Linked DNA regions of Homo sapiens: all the other regions are reported to be linked to region 1. Evidence: microRNA targets listed by miRTarBase, many of them from high-throughput screens and not tested one by one. Region 1 holds a microRNA gene; each other region holds the end of a gene's coding sequence.

Region 1 (3,168 bases):
TCCTGACCTGTAAGGTTTGCACTGAAAAGTCTGCTGCCAGACCTATTGGAGCTCCACTGTGTGTTGTTTCTTTTCTCTTGCTGCTTTTAGAATCTTTCTTTATCCTTGGCCACTGGGAGTTTGATTATTAAATGCCTTGGGGTAGTCTTCTTTAGGTTAAATCTGCCTGGTGTTCTATAACTTCTTCTACTTGAATGTTGATATCTTTCTCTAGGTTTGGGAAATTCTCTGATACTATCCCTTTGAATAAACTTTCTATCCCTATCTCTTTCTCTACCTCCTCTTTAAAGCCAATAACTCTTAGATTTGTCCTTTTCAGGCTACTTTCTAAATCTTGTAGGCATGCTTCATTCTTTTTTATTCTTTTTCCCTTTTGTCTCCTCTGACTGTGTATTTTCAAATAGCCTGTCTCTAGGCTCACTAATTCTTTCTTCTGCTTGATCAATTCTGCTATTAAGAGACTCTGATAAATTCTTCAGCATGTCAACTACAGTTTTCAATTCTAGAATTTCTGATTGATTCTATTTAATTATTTCAATCTCTTTGTTAAATTTACCTGATAAAATATTGAATTCCTTCTCTGTGTTATCTTAAGTTTCTTTGAGTTTCGTCAAAACAGCTATTTTGAATTCTCTGTCTGAAACGTCATATATATCTATCTCTCTGGGATTGATCCCTGGTACCTCATTTAGTTCATTTGGTGAAGTAATGTTTTCCTGAATGATGTTGGCACTTGTAGAAGTTCTTTGGCATCTGGGCATTAAAGAGTTATGTATTTATTGTGGTCTTCACAGTCTGGGCTTATTTGTGCCTGTCTTTCTTGGGAAGGTTTTCTAGGTATTCAAAGGGACTTGGGCCCCAAGCCCAATAATACGGTGGGTTTTGTACACTCATAGAGGTACTGCTGTGGTGGTTGTGGGTAAGATCCAGAAGAATGCTCTGGATTACCAGGCAGAAACCCTTGTTCTTTTCCCTTACTTTCCCCAAAACACATGGAGTCTCTCTCTCTCTGTGCCGAACCACCTGGAACTGGGGGGTGTAGTGATGCAATCACCCCTGTGGCCACCACCACTGGGACTGTGCTGGGTCAGACCCAAAGCCAGCACAGCAATGGGCCTTGCCCAAGGCCCTTCCCGTCAGGGTAGTGAGTTCTTGTAGGCTCCAGGTGTGTCCAGAGATGCTGTCTGGGAGCCAGAAGTTGGAGTCAAAAACCTTAGAAACTTATGTGATGTTCTATTCTACGGAAGCTAAGTTGAGGGAAAGGAAGTAAAGTGGAGGGAAAAATAGGAAGGACTTTGCATGGTACTGAACCACAATACAAAGTCCCTCCTATTCTTCCCTCCCCTTTCCACAAGATGTAAGACAAAGTACCCTTTAACTTTGATCTCCTCTCCTTAAACGGAAAGAAACAGTCACTTCCATTGCTACAAGCTGCAATCCTGGGTTTGGGGGAGGGATGACTTCTCTTTACTCTCCCATAGCTGTGCCAGCTGGTGTCTCCCTAGGTCATGTTCCACTCCTAGTTCACTGGCTTGAAGCCCAGCCTAGCACTAGGAGTTGCCTAGGAATTGCAGTCTTTGTGTCCTAGACTGTCTTTCAAGTTTACCTAGGACCCCAGAGCACTTTAGCCCTAAGTGGTGAGGTTTGCACAGAAACTCAAGTTTGGACCACTGGGATGGGTGACCCCCCTCTGGCTAGGGCTGGTCCAGATGCTCCCATTGTGCACAGGCAATGGCTGAGCTCAATACAGCTTTATTCTCCACTGTAACAGGGCAGCACTGAGTTCAATGTAAAGTCGCCCAGCAGCTGTGCTCTCCCTCCCCAAAGTGCTCAAGTTCTCTCTCTGCACTGCATGGCCACTGCTAGGGGATGGAGGTGAGGTGGTGTCAGTGATTCTAAAGTATCTCTTCTGCCCTCCTCAATGCCTCTGTCGTTAAATCCAAGTACTGTGAATATGACGTTAAATCCAAGTACTGTGATTGCACACTTGATTGTTGGTTTTTGTGATGGGGCTTTTCTGTGTACAGATAGTTGTTAAGATTTGGTGTTCAAGCCAGAGGGACAAACAGTGAAGGCTTCTATCCCAACCATCTTGCTCCACCTCCCTAGATCTTATTTAAACCTTTTATTTTAATTGGCTTTTTTTTTTTTGACACTGCTCTGGCAGGGTATAAGTGAGGGCACTGCTTTGTTTCTGCCAGGTGGATGTCAAAGTCCAGGTTGCCCATTCAGCCTTCATTCACACCAAAGGGAGGCTCCTCATTATTGCTGAGCAGGTGGGTAAGTTCCACATCTCCAGAGTCTCAACTAATACTGCAGTGAAGTGGGAGGGTGTTCCCTCAATATCAACCAATGGGGATGAAGTGCAGGCTCTCTACTTGGACACCATCCTGGCAAGGATGTTGCAGGAGCACATTAGAGTTTCATGAGGGTAAGTCCAGGCTCCCTACTCAGCCTTTGTTTGTGTGAGAAATAGGACACAAATTTTTTATGACATTTGGCTAGGGTGGAGTGGTTATTGTGTAAAACCTTTCTGTCTTGCTAGATTGGTCCTTTATTGTTCTCCTTGGCTAGAGAAAACTGGCTTTTGTTGGGGTCTTTTGTGTTTGTATTCATTGAGATTTCCAGGTTTCCAGCTTCTTCAGCGCCAAGTTTGGGATATTAAAGACAAGAAGAAAACCCAGGGAACTCACCATCATGTTGTTCCTTGGGTTCTTGGCTGACTTCTTTTCAACCTCTGAGTCTTCTTACATGTTTTTTATATATAATATTTAGAGTTTTTAGTTACCCTTAATAGGAGGAATAGGGGAAAGTATATTTACTCTGTCTTTTTGGCAGTAGAAGTAGGTGTCATTGCCTTTTAAAATACTGAATATACATTCTTTATTATCTATATCCCCCTGGTAGAAAGTGAACCTCAAAAGGGCATGCTTTTTGTATGGCCATAGTAACTTATTGAATGAATTTATAAAGCCACAAATGCGTGCTATTGGAAAATACATCATTTTTAAGTTTTATTTTTTAAATTGGTGCTGAACCAGTGGGAGGAGGTCTGAAGGTCAATAGGAATGAAGGAAAGGTCTACATAAGAATTACAAGTAGGAGACAAAATTAATATTAAATATAACCAGATGGTAGTGAAACAGAATTTACAGAGCTCAACTGAGG
Region 2 (3,168 bases), not on the chromosome of region 1:
TCTATAGGCCGGGCACGGTGGCTCATGCCTGTAATCCCAACACTTTGGGAGGCTGAGGCGGGCGGATTGCGAGGTAAGGAGATGGAGACCATCCTGGCTAACACGGTGAAACCCCATCTCTACTAAAAATACAAAAAATTAGCCAGGCATGACTAAAAATAGAAAAAATTAGCTGGGCGTGGTGGCGGGCACCTGTAGTTCCAGCTACTCAGGAGAGGCTGGGGCAGGAGAATGGCATGAACCTGGGAGGCAGAGCTTGCAGTGAGCCGAGATCCCACCACTGTACTCCAGCCTGGGTGACAGAGTGAGACTCTGTCTCAAAAAAAAAAAAAAAAAAGATTGATTTCGTCAAACTGTTATCAAAGGTTGGCCCTCTAGCCAACTCAGGAAGGCGCCATCCTCTTCCCATTATCTCCCCTTCCTCCAATTCTCCTCCTCCCCTTGGCTCCCTAGCCTTGGAGGTAAACACTAATATTTCAGTGCACTGTTGGTTAAGCCAGATTGGCTTGGGAACCTGGTAATGTTTTTATTTTTATTTTAAAAAAGGACAGTCTTGAGTCTCAAAATACCAACACATCTCTGATTTATGTCCCATTTATAAGCTGCCTTTACTACTGTCCTGACATGTGATCGTCTTTCATTTGCTTTGGAGCTTAGTGGTGAAGAGAGGGAACATTTCCATAACTGAAAATAAATGGAGAAAAGTGGTAACTCTTTTGTTTGAGAATATTTGAAATACTAGAAATAATGAGGAAAGTACAAGCCTAGCTGAGAAACTAGTTTCATCACTTGTGGACTTAAAAAAGTAAAGCTAACAGGGTTTAAAGTTGAGAGGCAGTTCACATCCTAAGTGATACCTAGAAACCTGCTTTCTTGTTCGCAAATGATCAACATGAACATACAGAATGGCTGACATTTGGACCTTTGGATAAGCTTAAAACATGGATTGTGGAATGTCTAATAGAGGGCTTTTCTCTCTTTTTTTTAATAATGACTGTCCCACACTTTAATTCCTCAATGATATGTGGATGCTAACTAAATCAGATGAAATGTTTTCTTTAAAATTCTGTATATATTTAAGAATTTCTAGGAAATGATTATTTAAAATGGAGTTTCTAAGTAATTATTTTCTTTATAGTTTAGTGGAGTAAGAAAAATAAATCTAAAAAAAAACATCAAATCTAACCTTTATCAAAGCCATCGAGGAGGTTGGTAAAATACTTTGCAAAAATCACAGCTCTGAACCACATAGAATGCTGATGAACTTAAAGCTTTGCCAGTTTGGCAAGTCTTCCAGTATAATACTTGTTGTGCCTCAGTACATTTTAAATAGACAGCTAGAGTTTACTAAATCCTAGGAATCAAATAAAAAATAAATGTTTTCTTCACTGAAGGGGAAGGCTTTTATATCCCAATAGAAATAGAGGAATTTCAAGTTTTGATACAAAAACAATTAAAACAAGATAAAACCCAAGTGGAAGCTCAGTCCATCTTTTGAATATTAACAAAATGAGGATTTTTTTAAAACTTATTTCTCCCATTTTGTTTCCTTTAAACACATACACTCACTCACTCTCTCAAGAATAGGTAGCACACCAAAACTTTATCTGTGTTATAAGATGTGTACACCTTCATGGTTTATTGTGGTTTTCCTTAAGTTTTATCCTTATTAGGATGAAGTTCATGCATTTCTACACTACTCTTAACTAAGGCTCAAGAGACAATAAAAACATAGAAGTAATTTTTTAATAAAAGGAAATAAAATAATCAAGTACTCTGAGTATTTTCCTCCATTCTCTTATCCAGAATTTTAAGGCCTCTGAAAAATAATGAAATAATAAAAATAGTGGTTTTGAGATCTAAATTTATTAATATTTTGGATTCCTTTTCTCAGCCAAAAGCTACTATCTGAATTAAGCTTTTCAGTTTAAAAGCCTGGAAGACCATCCTTAGAAGACATTAAAAAATTACTTCTGATACACACACTCCTAATAATTTAGATAGATATGAAAACAATCTCAAATAAAGATCAAAAAATAAAGTCCCTGTAAAAATAACTTTGGTTGCTCCCACCCACACGTCATATGATGATTTAAACTGCAATCATGAATTTTGAAAAAATAGACGTATCTTATCTATAAAAACACTACCATACAAACTTGAAACTAAAATGTTATCTGAAGTGACACAGATGTTCTAAATCTCAAGGATACTGAAAAATACATTTTTTATTCGTAAAATAAAAGAATAAAACCAATCTGATTGTGTTATTAGGAAATTTGTTCTGGAAACTTATTCATAAATTATTGATGGAAATTCTTAATGTCCATTGTGCTGTCACCTAAAACAGATTCAATCATTTTCTTGTAAAGAAATGACTGAGTAAATGAGTAAAAGAATAATAAGTAAATTTATAAGCTACAGGTTAACCATCACATATTACAACCAAGTATGACTATGTGATAACAACAAGAGTGGTCACACAGTACTTAAGATTTGGCTGTGTCCTTAAGGTCTTACTCGGAAACTATCACACCAACCTACCTTTGGGATAATTTTATCAGTAGACACAGGCAATGGGTATCTTTTTATCCTGTTTTCTTAAAGTTTGTATCACTAGTCTATAACAGATAGCAATGAGATAGTTCTAGCAATAGATGAAGCAAGGGGGTAACTGTGTTCTAGAAGAAACATTTATCTGTCTTTTGATCCAAGTTTCTCTATTAATTCTTGAAGAGGTGCCAGCTCACGCCTATCAATCAGATTAAACTCCTAAAAAGAGAAGAAAAATAACAATTAAAAATGGATCTAAAACTGAAACTCTGTAAATGTCTTTTGGAGAAGGGATTCCCAACTCTAGTTTTCTGAAGTCCAAAAGAATGATGAAATAACCTCTGTGAACATTTTAAAGTAGGCATTTATTCTTTTTCTTTTTTTTTTCTTTTTTGTACAGATGTGGTCTATGTTGCCAAGGCTGGTACTGAACTTTGGCCTCAAGTGATCTGCCCACCTTGGCATCCCAAATCCCAAAGTGCTAGGATTACAGGGGTAAGCCACCACGTCCAGCCCTCTCTTTTTAAAAATATAGGTATGATATTGTGATATAAGTATTTGGTCTTCCTTTTTCTTTACACACAGCTCCTAAAACCCTTGTTGGAATCACCAGAG
Region 3 (3,000 bases), not on the chromosome of region 1:
CTGGGAGGCGGAGGTTGCGGTGAGCCAAGATTGCGCCATTGCACTCCAGCCTGGGCAACAAAAGTGAAACTTTGTCTCAAAAAAAAAAAAAAAAAGTAATAACCTTTAGCAGGTTAATTGCTGCCTCCTTAATGTTGGGTTTTTTTTTATTTTAAGTGACTTCCTTACTATTGCTTCCTGGACTAAACCAACATGGAATCATTTTGAAGTACATTGGAATGGCCAAGAGGGAGATAAACAAACTTCTCAAACAAAAAGAAAAGAAAAACGAATGATTCATCTGCTTTAATCAGTGTGATTAATGCAGCACCCATTGCCCCGGGAACCGTTTCTGCTGTACTATCTGGATACTAAAATGTTACGGAAGTAGCTCTTTGTTCTCCCTCACTCTGCCCTTAGTTAATAGAAATTCAGACTCGCCAAGTAAGGCTTCGTGCATAGTGTCTTCATGTCGCGTATAGTTGAGCGCGTTCTTAGCAGTTGGCTTCATGGACAACTCATTAGTGTTTTGACTTTTCTTACCCAGCGTTAATTGAATTCTTGCTTTTAGACAACTTCCTTTTTGTAGTGGTGAACCTTGCCCTTTAGTACAGTTCAAGTGAATCTGGATAATTGTTCATCTTTGCTTTAGCTTAGATACCATGTAGTGGTCTGTGGCTACAGGAAGCTGGTTCTGTCTGCTTCCACAGTCTGCTTAAAAAACTGTCTGACTTCGTGAATATAGAGACCAAGTTTACCACTTCTGATGAAGAGACCAATTAAGATTCATTCCTCATTCTGTTTCTTTCCAGTGGGAGAAGAGTCCCCATGAAATAAGATGAAACTGATTCCATGCACTAGTACATGTAGGCTTCTCCCTTGTGCAAAGCTTAGCAATTTGTAGGAAACTTTGATCTTTTTGTCCAAGAAAAGGAATGTCTGACAGGCTTAAGCTTTCGTCCCCTTGCACTTAGACTCGAAGTTAGTAAATCCTTAAAGGCTTTTTAATAGCAGACTTCCAAAAGATTGCATTTAGGATTTCTAGCATGCTTTTAATTTCAGATTTTCAGCTGACATTAGCTATAGTATACAGTAGGTTAAGACTCATGTCTATGACTTTCACTCTAAGACTGGCAAAAGGACAGCAGTCTTCTATGTTTAGTCAATATTCATTTCAGTAGAAGATAATCTTATCTAATTTTTGAGACCAGAATAAGCCTTTTAAGGTAAACCTCAAAATTATCATTTTATGGTAATACTGACCATTTTAGTCCCCTAGGTTTGACATGGGAGATAGTGACTACACTGGTGTCTGACTTTTTTCCTAGAGATTTCTCCCTGAAAAATACAAGGGCTGTTGGTGAGAGCAGACTTGAGGTGATGATAGTTGGCCTCTGGTCTACAAAGATTTCATAACTCCTTGGAAAGCTTCTTATAATCATTCTTAACTTCTTGGTAGCTAGAAATTTAGAGTAGTTGAAATCTTTAGGAATGAACTTCTGAGGGCCAAAAAATGTGACTGACGGGAACAATTCTTAAACTGATTAACTAGCTGTAATATAGTTTTGTGAATTTATTGCACTGATGTTGTACCTTGTGGTATATCTGTCCCTATTAAATAAGTGTTGTTTTCTCCTCTTTAATATTGCTGTGAACAGTGGTGCCCATTGTAGCATATGTTTGATTTTTTTTTATTATTTCATAAGAAAACTACGTTAATTTTACCTTACTTTCATTGTAAATAAGCCTGTCTTCCTATCTGGATTTTTTGTGTGCATACATATTCTACTGATTAACTACTTTTGCAGTTTTAATCCTGTATTATTTCTTCTACTTTGTTTTGTGTAAAAGGGGAAAAAATAAAAAAAGCTGGAATCTTCATGTCTCACTTTCTTTATAACTTAGCCAATATAATATTTATGATTGGATTTATGAATCTGATTAATGAAGTACCCTGTGTGGTCCTTAGATGTCTATAAGGTACCCTACCTGTAATCCCACCACTTTGGGAGACCTGGGCAGGAGGTTCACTGGAGTCCATGAGTTTGAGGTTGCATTGAGCTGAGTGTACCCCTGCACTCTAGCCTGGGCAACAGAGCAGGACCCTGTCTAGGAAAAATTTTAAAAAAGAACAAAAATAAAAGGTTTAAGTTTTATTTAGCAAATATCCAGGTACCATGCTAGAGGGAAGAGGAAATGCAACGAATGAGCAGGGGCATTGACGTGTGAGAGAGGACGAAGCTGGAAGAACCGGCAGGGACAGAACTGGCTAAATGGTGCCTGTGTGGGCACCTCGTACCCCAGGGCCTTGCTAGCGTCTGGTACATGGGTGCTCAGTAAACAACTGTTGGGTGACTTTTGTCTGAACTTAACTTTTTAATTAAAAAAAAATTTTTAGCCGGGTGTGGTGGCTCACGCCTGTAATCCCAACACTTTGGGAGGCCGAGGTGGGCAGATCACTTGATGTCAGGGGTTTGAGACGAGCCTGGCCAACATGGTGAAACCCCGTCTCTACTAAAAATACAAAAATTAGCCGGGTGTGATGGCGGGCGCCTGTAATCCCAGGTACTCTGGAGGCTGGGGCAGGAGAACCGCTTGAACCCGGGAGGCGGAGGCTGCAGTGCGCCAAGATCGCGCCACTGGACTCCAGCCTGGGCGACAGAGCGAGACTCCTTATCAAAAGTAAACTAAAATAAAAATTAAGGCCCGCGCGGTGGCTCCCGCCTGTAATCCCAGCACTTTCGGAGGCCGAGGCGGGCGGATCGCAAGGTCAGGAGATCAAGAACATCTTCGCCAACTTGGGGAAACCTCGTCTCTACTAAAAATACAAAAATTAGCCGGGCGTGGTGGCGCATCTCTGTAGTTCCAGCTACTCAGGAGGCTGAGGCAGGAGAATCACTTGAACCCGGGAGGCGCAGGTTGCAGTGAGCCGAGATCACGCCACTGCACTCCAGTCTGGGCTACAAGAGCGAAACTGTCTCAAAAAAAAAAAAAAAATGTAGACGAACCTCCAACGAACGG
Region 4 (3,168 bases), not on the chromosome of region 1:
CCAGCCTTTTTTTTTTTTTTTTTTTTAATATATTTTTAAGGGATCAAAAATTAGTCTTCCTGATTTAGTGAAATCCTAAACTTTACCATTTGGAAACAAAATTTGCGGAGTAGCTTTTCTTTTAGTGTTTTAAATTCAGTTGAGACTACTTTTAACTAAATTTAGCTGTATGTTTAGACGTATACATTTTTTGTAATTCATTTTTGACAGATCTTCAGGATTTATTCCGCAAGACTGGCCAGGACGTGGATGGGAAGCTGACCTACCAGGAAATCTGGACCTCCCTAGGTTCTGCTATGCCAGAACCAGAGAGCTTGAGAGCATTTGATTCCGATGGAGATGGAAGATACTCATTCCTGGAGCTAAGGGTAGCTTTAGGTATCTAGCTTCATCAGGCATATTTTAGAAATGGACTGCCTAATATCTATTTACCTAACAACAAAACAACCCTTACTTACCCATCAGTCCTCTAGTCCTCCAAACTACTGTAGCAGATACTTTGCCACCTTTTAACTTGTTTGAAGAAGCTATATAAAAGTTATTTTTTTAAAGAAGAAGACCATTTTACTTATGATGTTCAGAAATCTATGATTTCCTACAACCAGTAAGATCTTACATTTTAAAATTGCCAGAAAAAAAATTAAAGCCCTCTTTTTTTCTCTTTCCTTTTTTTGAGGGGAGGAGACCTTATCTTTTAAAGCTGGGAAATGTATATAGAGAGAGAATAAGCCACTTTTATATTTCACTTAAATTTGCCTTAAATTAGCTGCACTTTATAGAGACTCAGAAAATGTCTTTTCTTTAAAAGATAGGCCTTTTCTGTTTGTAAATATTTAAATGAAAGAAAGCATTGTGCATATTGTGTGGAAAGTAGGAAGAATGGTTTTGAACAGGATATGAACAAATGACTTATTAAAAATTGCTGATCTGGTGTAGGTGGCAGCTGAAACTACATCCATGTCTCCATAAGGTATCCCTCAAAGGCCCAGGCGCTGCCAGGGGGTTTGTCCTGGTAGCTGGAGGAACCGATTTCAGGGAGTAGACACTGGAGACAATACTGACTCCAGGCATGGCTCATGGAAGTAGGATTCTGGTTCTTTGTTCCTATTCCCTCAGCTAATCCCAACCTGGGAATCAGAGAAGTCTTGGGGATTTTTCTCATTTTTAGTACTATTTCAGGGTTTATGAGCATAAAAAGTTATCCATTGGGGAGCTCCATTTTCCCTGCTGAGTGAGCTAGATTGCCTTCCCCACCCACCCACTTAAGTCTGTCTTAAAGCCGTAGCTGGCTCCCACCACCAGTACCATCTCCATTTGAATGGCAGGGCTAAATTCCCCCAGCCATTATCTCACACTGACCACCCAGAGCTTTAGAAGAGAGCTGTGCTTCTAATTTTGACCCAGAAAACCATACCCCTTGAGATTTTACCTAGAGGCTAACCAAGAGCCTAATATGTTTCTCTGGGGGATGACTAAAGCCAAAAAGGCTGTGAGATGAAACATGTGAAATAATATTCAGTTTCCTTACCATTACCAGCTCAGAAGTAGCTAGAGGCTTTCTACCCAAAGGATGCCAAAGTATAGCAGGGCAGGCCTGGAGCTAGGGCCTTCACATGGTGGTAGCAAGTTTTTCAAATCTAATACAATCAAGTACAATACTTCCTTTAAATGCTTCTGTGGACCTGGCATGAAAGATCCCTAGATTGAAAGGAATAATACCTCCATGTCTCCTGTATGTTGAGTCTAGAATTGCTGTGTTGTTCTTAGAAGCAGTCTTTGGGCAACAACTTGAAAGGGGAAAAAAAAACTACAAAAACTTAACTTTGGTATAGGCCAAGTCAGGGAGAAAGTAGAGAAAGCTGTCATGCCACAGACTTCTTTAGTGGAGATCATTTCCTTTTTAACTTTGTTCAGGTTGCCCTTCACCATGGATACAGTCCGGTACCCTTAAACATTTAAGGGCTGTTTTTTTTTTCTTTACATGATGTTCAGCTTGGTATTAACCAAACTTAAATTTTTTTTCCAGAAGTATTAAAATTTAGTTAAAGCAAGATGAAGTCTTTTCCCATGAATGTGTCCCCTTATCTCATTATAGCTTATGCTCAGTTTCACTTTCTTGGAAAGGTTAAAACAAATTAGCCTGGCACTTTAGGTAACTTGAAAATAACTCTCACCCTTCTGACTGCCTTCCATCCACTCTCACCCCACACCTTTTTTTAATATATATACACCCTTACAGATTTTCTAACAACCAAATAAAATTCTAGCAATAAATTGAATTATACTGCTATATTTGTATATACTGTACCATAAATAGTATGTCTGTACCTGGAAGGTATTTTTTTGAGAACTGATTTATATGAAATATACTTGAGGGTAATGTAGCTTGTCCTTTTTAGTTTCAAATTCTTATTCATAGGCAGATACTTTGAAGACACCTTAACTCTTTGTTGTGTGTATTTTCCCTTGCATCAGATAACTATACATGGAGAAATCCATTTTGTTTTTTGGTTTATCTTCTGTTCTTCCTACCTTGTGCTTGTCTGACTAGTATCACCCCTGAGCCAGTATACAGTACCATCCTCTCCCCCTACCAAGTTTGGCAGAGGTGTTTATACTGCATTCTCAGATCTATGAATATTTTTGTCATCCTGCCTGAGAAAGTACATCTTCCAGGCAAAAGTAGGGTATCTTGAACTCCTTTCTTCTGAGTTGAGCAGACTCACTGGCTTAAGCATCCCATAAGCCTATTATTTAGTGTGAATTTGGGACTTTTATTTGTATGTTGTCTTAACTTACTAAGCCTGTGACTTGTATTTAGCTGTAGTCAAGCCTCACCAGCCATATCTCATCTCTGAGAGGAAGACTGGATAGTGAGTTTGGTTTTGGTTTTGGTTTTAAACCCTTTTACCTTTTCAGTCTGGCAGCTCCTACTGCTGCTTTCCTAAGTTACTCAAAGCACTGCTTCTTGGTCCTTGTTTTCTTTTGCCTTGTACTATCTTGTATAATGTTTACTAAAAGAGCCTCCCCATAAATCAGAGAGGCAAAAAGGTAGCATATAAAAAGAAGAACCAAAAGAAGAGAAAACCTGACTTCTAGATGACTGTGGTGTCATCTAAAAGGCAGAGGTGCCTGACCCTCAGGAATGTGTATGATGCAACAGAGCTG
Region 5 (3,168 bases), not on the chromosome of region 1:
CCAAGGAACCATTAAACCCTGCGTGCCTTTGAAGATCAAGAGTAAAAGCCTAGGACAGGATTTTTTTTTTTCTTACTTTTTTCTCATTTTTTTTCTTTTTTCTCTTTTTTATAGATAGCAAGTATATTTTTTCTCATAGAACTCTATGAAGATTCTATAACTTCTTTCCATGTAGAAATAAGATATCATTTAAGATGTACTAAAATCACTTTTGATCATAATCCCCTGTAAAAGCTAAAGTTATTCACTTAACAGGAACTCTGTTTTTCCTTATTCAAATGTCACAAGCCTGACGCGTTACTGTACATATTGCTAGCAGGAGACAACTGGAAATACTAAACAAATACTGGAATTCACATTACAGACAGACGAAACCAACATGGATGCCACACATAACTTCCTTTGTAGTTTCACAGAGAGCCTATTTGTGGTTGCTCAGGTGGGGTCATACATTGCTTGCAGAAATGGCCTGATCATAGCTCTATGAAACAATGAATTCGGAATGAAATCTTACCATGACACCTCTCTGTAGGAAAGAAATGTTGCTTCACGTGTGCTAAGTTGAGATAATAATATTTCACATATTTATATACAGAGAATCACTCTCAAATTTAACCCAAGATAAGCAATAGGATTTGGGGGTGACTTGTACGCATTTCTAAAAACACTTTTCTTTTTTCTAGAGGTCACTCTCAAACACTGATATATCACTATAGTTTGAGTGTAGGGATTCAGTAATCAAAGGTTGTTATTGCAAAAGAGCCAGGCAGCTGGACAATTTTTATGGGGAATGTCCACTTTAGCGGAGAGATTTAAGACTGGATTTCTAGAATAACCCACAATGGAGCCGAGGAACATGATCTTCAAATATCTTTGGCTACTGTTTCTTGGTAATGCAATAATTTTTCAAAAAAGTATCCATTGCTACTATGTTTCCTTCCACCTTATAACACTCAAAACTTTCCTGAAAAATGAGAAGAGAAATGAAAAAATGACAAGCTGTTGGAAAGACAAATCTCTGATCCCTAGGTCACCAATTTAAAATGGGTGAATAATTTCCATTCAATGTCTTCTCAGTGAAGTTATCCTAATTTCCCAGAAAACCCATGCAAAGCAGTTTTAATATTCTATCCTTTCTTCCCCCATTCTTCTATAATATTCACCGTTTGGTGACCGGATACACAAATCCACAAAAAGTGATGTTTTCAGACAATCATATGTTTGATCCCATAAATGATATAAAAGATTTTTAAAAACCTGCTTACTGATAAATAAGGGACCGAGTGCTTAAACAAAAAGGAAAGACACATGTCTTCCTTCAATCTGATTAGCTAAGCTGAGCAGGTACTTCATCGGCCAAACCCTCCCGCAGCTGCTAGGGAACACAGAGCCGTATTTACTCCAAGGGGCATAGCCCCACCAAAGGCAAGCTTTCTTCTTTTTTTGGCAGGGCCCTGAAATGGGAAGCAACTCTTCCTAAACATATTCAAAGGGCCAGAGCTACAGAACGGGACTTGTATTTTTGTTTCTCCCTACTGATTCTTTGTGTGTGCATGTCTCTAATTTAACAAGCTGTAAATACACTCCACTTTGGGGACCCATCTCTGTACTGCAATTTCATGAAGGCTAACACGTACAAGTCAAAAGTTTTTCAAAACAGTGGTCTCCTAAGAATGCTCTTGCATGCACCTGTGCAACCTGACGGGGGAAATAGGCCACACAGACCGTCTGGGTCTTCTGTGGGACATCACATCCTCCTACAAATGAGAATCTCATGTAAGAAAATCCCATGTCTTTGTTTACCACAAGTAATTAAGAAGAAAAGCCTCTTTTGTTGGGGAGGAAACAGAGGTGATATGACTAATGTGTGTGTGTGTGTGTATATATATATATATTTATATACGTACAGAGCACAATGAAAAGCACAACCTTGCTAAAAGCTCTTTCAAAGTGAAAACACCAATAAAAGCTTTTTTTCTTGTTTGTCTGTTTGTGGTTTTTGTTTAAACTCACAGCTATATACATTTTTCTTTTTTACAAAGTCTCTTAAATATAGTTCAGGCTGGCAAAACACCTCTTTGCACAGAACCGTACAGATTTCGCTGCACAGTCCATTCTTTTAATAATAAATTTCTACGTTTCCTTCTCTCTGGATTACAGCTCCATGTGCTGGGCAAAATCTCATTGACTCTTTCTTCACTTAAGGAGAGCCATCCATTGTGTGGCACAGAAAGAAATGTTTAAACTTCCATTGTAATTAAAAAATATCAAGTGTCCTTGGCTGAGTTTCAGAAGTGTCAGCTGCTTCCATGACGTTGGAAACACCCGGGGCCTTGAAATGGTGATGTCCTATCACACTAAACATCGATTGGAGTGGTAGAGATCTTAAAGCAGTTATTTTAACAGAAATGTGTACTTCTCACATTTCACAGGGTCAGAAGTTGATCTTGTAATACTGGAAAACACCAACGATAAGGGTCTGCCGGGATGGGATGACTGCCTTTTTGCATTTTTGTCTTAAGTCAGTGGGACAAAAACATTCCTGGTCTGGAGACTTTCTTTCTCTCTCTCTTTCCTTCTCTCTTTCCTTCCCTCTTCTATGTTGCTGAGCGGGTAGGGCAGAGGGATAGGAAGGGAAATAGGGCAAAGCTATACTCTAGTGGTGGAATGTCCGTGGGGTAAATTTGTACTGTTTTGTCCTCCACTGAAGGTGTTAAAAGTGTGCAAAGGCTGCATCCCCGTCAGTGTGTTTGGAATCATGGTGATGGTGTTTGGCGTCATAAGTGGGATGTCATCTGGCGACCGGCGCAGCGTGAGGGTGTAGTCTGGCGGGCAGGTGAGCCTCAGTGTGTCGTGTGCCTGCAGCGACTCACACTCGTGATCGTGTTCCAGCTGCTTCATCTGCAGAGACATGATCTCTTCGTTCTGGATGTGAGCGATATCATTTGTGGTGTTTCTCTGGGGACTGGGGCGCCTGTGAGTCTCATGGCGCCTCTTGTCCTTTTTGTAGTACAGCGCCGCAAAAGCTAAGATGTTGAGGAAGAGGAGCGACGCCCCGACGGCAATGGTGACACTTAATTCGGTGGAATAATCTCGTTTGGTTTCAATGAGGACAGTTGTGTCCTCAGGCCCTGTTTTGTGAGGGTCCTTAGAGTGTTTGGGATTGTT

Evidence for each region. The annotated mature microRNA hsa-miR-6507-5p reads GAAGAAUAGGAGGGACUUUGU and lies in region 1 at 1,318-1,338, opposite strand. An mRNA with a match to its seed (bases 2 to 7 or 8) in the 3' UTR can be bound and repressed. Matches are read on the target gene's strand: a 7mer-m8 pairs with bases 2 to 8, a 7mer-A1 pairs with bases 2 to 7 and ends in A, and an 8mer does both.
Region 2: miRTarBase lists MOB1A as a target of hsa-miR-6507-5p. Seed matches in the 3' UTR shown: 7mer-m8 at 2,395-2,401, 7mer-m8 at 2,244-2,250, 7mer-m8 at 1,580-1,586 and 7mer-A1 at 1,078-1,084.
Region 3: miRTarBase lists ARL6IP1 as a target of hsa-miR-6507-5p. Seed matches in the 3' UTR shown: 7mer-A1 at 1,420-1,426 and 7mer-A1 at 1,511-1,517.
Region 4: the mRNA of EFCAB14 is a reported target of hsa-miR-6507-5p. Seed matches in the 3' UTR shown: 7mer-A1 at 2,406-2,412.
Region 5: miRTarBase lists NLGN4X as a target of hsa-miR-6507-5p. Seed matches in the 3' UTR shown: 7mer-A1 at 1,669-1,675.

The regions. Positions count from the first base shown.
Region 1 is chr10:98,923,226-98,926,393 of GRCh38, forward strand. MIR6507 (microRNA 6507) reads right to left here and starts at 1,343; the gene lies at 1,274-1,343. All of the region lies in intron 3 of HPSE2 (heparanase 2 (inactive)), which reads right to left.
Region 2 is chr2:74,153,874-74,157,041 of GRCh38, forward strand. MOB1A (MOB kinase activator 1A) reads right to left here. Exons shown (of 6, transcript NM_018221.5): 6 at 1-2,772. The coding sequence ends at 2,695. Among named protein-coding and RNA genes, the nearest start is that of BOLA3-DT, 7.5 kb to the left of the region's middle.
Region 3 is chr16:18,790,527-18,793,526 of GRCh38, reverse strand. ARL6IP1 (ARL6 interacting reticulophagy regulator 1) reads left to right here. Exons shown (of 6, transcript NM_015161.3): 6 at 157-1,858. The coding sequence ends at 275. Among named protein-coding and RNA genes, the nearest start is that of RPS15A, 1.7 kb to the right of the region's middle. RefSeq lists an enhancer at 2,956-3,000.
Region 4 is chr1:46,675,679-46,678,846 of GRCh38, reverse strand. It overlaps EFCAB14 (EF-hand calcium binding domain 14), which reads left to right. Exons shown (of 11, transcript NM_014774.3): 11 at 211-3,168. The coding sequence ends at 386. The region is part of intron 1 of EFCAB14-AS1 (EFCAB14 antisense RNA 1); the gene reads right to left. Among named protein-coding and RNA genes, the nearest start is that of EFCAB14-AS1, 3.2 kb to the right of the region's middle.
Region 5 is chrX:5,890,168-5,893,335 of GRCh38, forward strand. NLGN4X (neuroligin 4 X-linked) reads right to left here. Exons shown (of 6, transcript NM_181332.3): 6 at 1-3,168. The coding sequence ends at 2,650. Among named protein-coding and RNA genes, the nearest start is that of LINC03070, 170 kb to the left of the region's middle.